Homo sapiens: one gene and its partner. The protein of the gene in region 1 interacts with the protein of each later gene in a pairwise test. Each region holds a gene or a part of one and is shown on either strand. Other genes may lie near its edges.

Region 1 (3,953 bases):
TAAGCCTGGGTGACAGAGCAAAACTCTATCTCAAAAAAAAAAAAAAGAAAAAAGCTATATATATGAGAATTATAATTTATAATATACCATAATATTCATCTATTGCAAACCGTACAATTCAGTGATTTTTTTTTTTTTTTTTTTTTTTTTTTTTTTTTTTTGTGATAGAGTCTCACTCTTTCACCCAGACTGGAGTGCAGTGGTGCAGTCTTGGCTCACTGCAACCTCTGCCTCCCGGGTTCAAGCAATTCTCCTGCCTCAGCCTCCCCAGTAGCTGGGATTACAGGCATCTGCCACCATGCCTGGCTAATTTTTGTATTTTTAGTAGAGATGGGGTTTCACCATCTTGGCCAGGCTGGTCTTGAACTCCTGACCTCATGATCCACCCTTCCTTGGCCCCCCAAAGTGCTGGAATTACAGGCGTGAGCCACTGTGCCCGCAGTGATTTTTTTTAGATTTTTTTTTTTTTGAAATTTATAGGGTTGTGCAGCTATCATCACAATCCAATTGTAGAACATTTTCATTATTCCAACAAGTTCTCGTGTCCTTTTACAGTGACTTTTATGTTGAGTGGTTTATGAGAGTATATTTATATGTGTATTTTTGTGTGTATGTACATATAAATATGTCTTATGCCTATGTGACCATATTTATTATGTAAGGACGTATCTGTTAATTTATTTCATTGCCTGTTTTTAATACAAATGAATAATGTTTGAAAGTTTTCTTTTTGACATGCATGGTTAAATCAGCAGGTTCAAGTTGTATTCTGCGGGCAAAGTGAAACAGAAAAATCTTGTTATAACAAAATATGGCAACATTGTAGTAAAATTTATTTTCTGTGAGTAAAGGAAGATGGCGTTTCATATTCTGAATTGTTTGTTCCATGTTGTTTGTTAAAGAGGATGGCATTCCCTGTGGATATGCTGGAAAATTGCAGCCATGAGGAATTGGAAAATTCTGCTGAAGATTACATGTCAGATTTAAGGTGTGGGGACCCTGAAAATCCAGAGTGTTTTTCTCTTCTCAATATTACGGTAAGGTGTTCTGCAGTGATTGTCATCAATCTTTTCAGTTCAGTTTATACATGAAATAAATATCCTTTTTTAAAAAAATCATTTTAAGTGTTAATCATTAATTTTTGAAATCTTTACAGAAATCTATTCAGTAAAATGGATAAATATTGGTTGATCAGTTTTTAAAAAGAGAAACTCCACAGGTTATTGCTATTTGACTTTATGGCTTTAAAATTATATGTGAGAATACCACCAGTTTTGCTAAGACTGTTTACTATATTTGAGCTGCTTCAGATTTACTTTAGATTTGGAATTTGTGAGTTTAGAAAATTTTTTAATTAAAAAATCAGCAAAACACTAAATTACATATTTTTTGTGCCATGAATCTTTTCTTCCTTTTTCTAAAAAAGTAAAATCAAATTTTCTAGTCAGTAAATTATAATATTTTGTGATAGATCATTAGACTTGGAACCATTAGGGTTTCACTGTGAACTGTGGTGGACAAATTCCTTAACCTCTCTAGGCCTTAGATTTTTCTTCTGGAGGTGACTTAAAGAATTTTTTAAAGTCTTCCCCAGCACCAATATTTTTATAATTCTCTGAATTGTAATGTTATCTCTAAATAGGGAATAAGTGTTGGATTAAATGAAGGCAAAAAAATGTTAAAGCATATTAGTAGCATGTATCTTCCCAGAAAAATTAATTTACTTGACTGCTTTTTTTTTTGTTTTTTTTTTGAGATGGAGTCTCGGTCTGTCGCCCAGGTTGGAGTGCATTGGCACGATCTTGGCTCACTGCAACCTCTGCCTCCTGGGTTCACGCCATTCTCCTGCCTTAGCCTCCCGAGTAGCTAGGACTACAGGCGCCCACCACCATGCCCGGCTAATTTTTGATATTTTTAGTAAAGATGGGGTTTCACTGTGTTAGCCAGGATGGTCTCGATCTCCTGACCTTGTGATCCGCCCGCCTTGGCCTCCCCAGAGTGCTGGGATTACAGGTGTGAGCCACTGTGCCCGGCCTGCTTTTTTTTTTTTTTTTTAACTAGATAATGGAATATCTTCCTCAAGTAGGCTAAATAACAGATGATAAATTATAGTTGTTTTTTAAATGACTTTATGGGCCATATTATAGCTTTGGTTTTTATTCAGATGTGTGGCTAGATACATAATAATATTTATGAAACAACTTTTCATATTTTCCCTAAGACAATAAAATTATTCCAAAAGGGAAGTCTATCTGATTTACTCTTTTTTTAGAGACTAGAAATAATGTCTCCTATAAAATAAATTAAAATTAACGTAGGAAATATTTACTACTTTGATAAAAGATTGATTTTTTTAATGTATTTTCTTAACAGACTGTTCACTAATCTTTATTAATTTGTCATTTCAGATTCCTATTAGCCTGTCAAATGTAGGCTTTGTACCTCTTTATGGTGGAGATCAGACCCAGAAAATTCTTGCTCTCTTTGCACCTGAAGATTCACTGACAGGTCTCTTTTTGCTTAATTTTTATAAATTAAGGAATTTTTCTCCAAACTGTTAGAAATTTATTTAAAAGGTAGCTACATGAAGGAATTTGGTTTTTTTTTTAAAGTGTTTCAAATTGTAATTTTATTAAAATGTAATTCTTAATTGCTTATAGCTACATGTTTGATGGATGAATGTCTGCTATCACACTGCTATAAAGAACTTCTTGAGACTGGGTAATTTATAATAGAAAGAGATTTAATTGACTCTCATAGCCAGGCACGGTGGCTCATGCCTGTAATCCTAGCACTTTGGGAGGTCGAGGTGGGTGGATCACCTGAGGTCAGAAGTTTGAGACCAGCCTGACCAACATGGTGAAACCCTGTCTCTACTAAAAATACAAAATTAGCTGGGCGTGGTGGCACATGCCTGTAATCCCAGCTACTTTGGAGGTTGAGGCAGGAGAATCGCTTGAACCCAGGAGGTGGAGGTTGTAGTCAGCTGAGATCACACCATTGCACTCTAGCCTGGACAATAAGAGTGAAACTCCATCTCAAAAAAAAAAAAAAAAAAATTAAAAATTGACTCACAGTTCCGCATGGCTGGGGAGGCCACCAGGAAACTTGCAATCATGGCAGAAGGGGAAGCAGGCACGTCTTACATGGTTGCAGGCAAGAGAGAGTGTGTGCGCACGTGTGTGAAGGAGGAACAGTCAAACATTATGAAACCATCAGATCTTGTGATAATGGGACCCCCCCACCCTGACCCATGATCGAATCACCTCTCACCAGGTCCCTCCCTCTACATGTAGGAATTGTGGGGATTACAGTTCAAGATGAGATTTGGGTGGGGATGTAGCCAAACCATATCAGTGAAATAAAAATGGTATAAATGAGGCTACAAAGTACAATATTACTATTTGGTAAGGTTTATATAGATACTCTTAAATATAAAGTATATGGATACTTTATAGTACAATATGGCCTTATTAAGTCTAAAAGTGTACTTTAAAACTCAAGTGTTAATGATTATTTATTCTATTTTAGCTGTGGCACTTTACCTTGCTGATCAGTGGTGGGCTATTGATGATATTGTGAAAACATCTGTTCCTTCAAGAGAGGGGCTTAAGCAGGTAACAAGATCCTCTAATTTTGAGTGTTTCTTTTGAGGCCATTTCACAGTGTTTCCTGTAAACAGTGATAGTTTTTGAGCTCTTCCCCATTTAAAAATAATCAGGTTATATTAAACCCTAGAATTTCATTCTTACGATGAAGCCAGCATTCGGGTTGGGCTTCCTCCATTTTTATGTGATTCTATAAGTATCTGAGATTGGGTGAGGAAGAATGAATACCTATGGGTTAGTTGAGCTTTGGCTACCTTTATCCAAGTTAGCTTCTGATTTTCTTATTTGATAGAGGAAAAGCTAGTTCCCTTTGTGTGATTGTTTAGCTTCTGTCTCTAGGAGAGA
Region 2 (3,600 bases), on another chromosome or scaffold:
CATTTCCATACTTTTGAAGTCTTATAAGTCATCCAGATTCATTAATTCAAAGGGAGTTCCTCCCTGGTAGTTGGAATGATAGGTCATTTTTTTCAAGGACCCAAGATCGGGCTGGGATAGGGATGGCAGTGTATCTGGATGAAGATAGGAGATAAACAAAGCCAACAGTCCTTTGCCAGAGCTGAGCTGGTGGTATTTAACAGTCTTTGCATTAAATTTAAAGTTCTTAATAAATACCCAGAATCTATTAATTGCCAGAGGGGTAAAGTGAAGCTCTGTTGTAAAATAAAGCTGATTCCCTGTATGCGGTGTCCCTGTGTATACTGGGTGTATACTGGGTGTCCATTATGGAACAAAAAAAAAATACTTATTTGCTATTTTGTTCTATAGAATGGGAACTTCAGGGGGTGGATACCTGTGCTGTCAGGAATGCTAGTTATAAAAATGAATTAAAACACTTCATATATTACAAAGGAAGTGATTCCATCTATTTGGACGAAAGCAATTAAACTGCAAAAATATAAAAAATGGCAACTATTATTCAGTCTACAGTAACTATGCAACAAAGACACCAAGGAAAGTTGGTAGGCATTTACGTATCTCACTTAAAACAAGTCTATAAAGTGGTTTATTTTAAGAAGGGTACATTTTAAGAAGGACAAAATCAAAAGCATGGACAAGTGTTGGATGAGCTGATGAGGTTGTGGCAATTTACTTTGTGAATACTGTGAGAGTTTGTCCAACTCGCTGTGCTTAGGTACTAGATGGTGAGGATTTAAAAGGTCAATGAAGTCACAGCAGACCAGCACTCAAACATATTTCTCTTCTATTTCCTACTTTTGAATAAAAATGTCAGAAGTGGGCGGTGGGAAAGGAACAAGCAAAGGAGTAATTATTTGAATAAATTTTTGGCGAAACGTGGGTGTCTGACGGGGAGGCTGTGCGGTGGTGACCAACGCACCCATGCGCTGGGTTTCACAGATGCAGACTGAAGTCCAGGCTCTGCTGCAGATTAACGGGGTGGCCGCCAGCAAGTCAAGTGACTTGCTCTTCTGTGCACTGCATGTACTTGGGTTCCTCTCACAGGTATTCCTGTTTTTCCTCTTTCTTGCTCCAGGTTACACCTCGTGGCGCGGCGCTCTCGGAGAGCCTGTGGAGTGGCCCTGTGTCCCTCCCTGACCCCTGGAGGATTCCGTAAGGTCACAGTCACCGCCTCCATCCCCTACTTGCCATGTCTTCAGGGCTAATGCATAACAATTATCACAATTTACAGCAGCCCCACGCTCTGAAGAGCTTCTGGAGGGGATACTACTCAAGCGGAGGAAGGCAAGACAGGGACCTCCTCCCTCTTCCCGGACCTCTTCTGATAAGGAATATTTGTAGGTGGTTAAGAAAGGCAGCGGGAGGGCGTGAAGGCAAAGACAAGCTTTTTTTCTCGTAGGAACACACATCTTCTGGTCTGGCTGTGTTTCCGGAGGCATTTCCAGAGGACCTAGCGAGGACCAACTTCCGGCTGCGACTTCCGCGTCTTCCGAGTTTCGAGACCTGCTGCTTCCGCCCGGAGTTGTTGTGGGCTCCAGCAGCGAGTAGCCACTTCCGCTAGGAGTCCCTAGCGGCCAGGGCGTGGAAGCGGATTCTGAGGCGGCTTTCTCCTACTGCCCTCCGCTTGCCAACGCGGGACCCGGAGCCCAACGGCAGCGGCGGTCCTTGGGCCTGTGGAGAGGGGTTCTCTGTGGCCGAGTCCTAGGCCTGGTGAACCGCGCGGTGCGGGAGAGGCGCTTGGGCCTCGTCCAGCCCCAGCCCCTGTCTCCCCGCGGCCGGTGCCGGCGGCTGTAGGCCTCGCCGCGCCCACCCAGCCTGGGGCGGGCCCAGCCTCACCGCCCGGCCCGCCCCGCCCCACGGGCCAGCCCCGCGCCGGGTGTTTCCGCTACTTCCCTGCGGCGGGGTAACCGCCTCGCACCTACCGGGCTCGGTTCCCTGGCTCCGGCCGCGGGGGAGCATGGAGTTTGCGGAGCTGATTAAGACCCCGCGGGTGGACAATGTGGTGCTGCACCGGCCTTTCTACCCGGCTGTCGAGGGCACCCTGTGCCTGACGGGCCACCACTTGATCCTGTCCTCCCGGCAGGACAATACGGAGGAGCTGTGGCTCCTCCATTCAAACATCGACGCCATCGACAAGCGGTGAGTGCCCGCCCCACCCCAGCTCCGCAGGGAGCCGGGGGTCCCTTGTGGGCGCCCCGGGAAATACTTCCTGGCGTTTTCCGCGCAGCCTGCCGCCCAGCTAGCCGGCAAGATGAGCCCTCTGTGGCCTAGAATCAGGATTTACCAAGCTGAAACCCGTCCAGATGGAGGACCCGGTTTCCATTAAACCTGGATGGAGTTCTCAGGGTTATCGTGTGGCTGGTACCATCCTGATGATCATTTCTGGTTCGTAACACCATTTGGGTGGATTTTCGGCATTGTCTTTATAAATTTCTTCTTCTTCTTGCCCCATCGTATTCCTTGAATTGGTATTGTCAGTCACCGTTCATGAAGTGATTGGATGTGATTTAGGTAAAGTCTTTACCATTTCTGAGGAAAACTAAACAGATTATAAAGTTATGAGTGTCTACATGCTACAGAACCATTTTTTTAATTTCTGAAAAATGTTCAGTGTATCATATTATTTCTTACCTTCTGGGTCATCAAAATTTAATTCTCACTAAGGGAGATTCTGATGTCTTCTCTTCATCTTTACTCAATTCTGCTTGCTGAAAGAACAGGGTTGGCTCTCAAGGAAAGGCATGGACCAGTTAACCTCTTTTTTCTTTTTGTACTCCAGACTTTATCTTTCCAAGGCAGTGCCTCGAAGTCAAAAAGTTAAACTTTCATCTGCATTCAAAATTCCCATCTCCTTAGTGGCTACTCGCTAGCCAGGAGAGGGCAAACTGATTATCCGTTTTACACAGAAGTATAAATGAATGACGACAACATTTTCTATTGCCTCACAGGATAATTTGGATATTAGGAAGATTCGTACAGAGGATATGCCTTAAAATAATAATCTCTTTCTTTCTTTCTTTTTTTTTTTTTTTTTTTTTTGGAGACGAAATCTCACTGTATTGCCCAGGCTGGAGTGCGGTGGCCAATCTCGGCTCACTGTAACCTCCACCTCCCAGGTTCTAGCGATTCTTCTGTCTCAGCCTCCCGAGTAGCTGGGATTACAGGCACGCGCCACCACACCCGGCTAATTTTTGTATTTTTTAGTAGAGATGGGGTTTCACCATATTGACCAGGCTGGTCTTGAACTCCTGACCTCGCAATCCTCCCGCCTAGGCCTCCCACAGTTCTGGGATTACAGGCGTGAGCCACTGCGCCTGGCCTAAAATAAAAATTTCTAATGGTAGAATTGCAGGCAGTTTGGGTGAAGCCATGGTAGATTGATTGATTGATATGAGCAGGGGGCTCTTATTAGTCTCCTCAAGCCACCTTTTGCTGTATAAAGTCTTCAGTGGGCCCGGCACGGTGGCTCACGCCTGTAATCCCAGCACTTTGGGAGGCCAAGGTGAGCGGATCACCTGAGGTTAGGAGTTTGAGACCAGCCTGACCAACATGATGAAA

What was found.
Region 2: the proteins of FAM169A (region 1) and MTMR9 interact in binary tests that used the Homo sapiens proteins (3 or more experiments, as listed by UniProt).

The regions. Positions count from the first base shown.
Region 1 is NC_000005.10:74,838,629-74,842,581, reverse strand, and holds part of FAM169A (soluble lamin-associated protein of 75 kDa), read left to right. Parts: intron 1-902; coding exon of another isoform or gene 903-905; coding exon 906-1,037; intron 1,038-2,408; coding exon 2,409-2,508; intron 2,509-3,531; coding exon 3,532-3,617; intron 3,618-3,953.
Region 2 is NC_000008.11:11,282,890-11,286,489, forward strand, and holds the start of MTMR9 (myotubularin-related protein 9), read left to right. Parts: upstream 1-1,926; 5' UTR 1,927-1,999; coding exon 2,000-2,181; intron 2,182-3,600. UniProt on the Homo sapiens protein: Acts as an adapter for myotubularin-related phosphatases. Increases lipid phosphatase MTMR6 catalytic activity, specifically towards phosphatidylinositol 3,5-bisphosphate and MTMR6 binding affinity for phosphorylated phosphatidylinositols.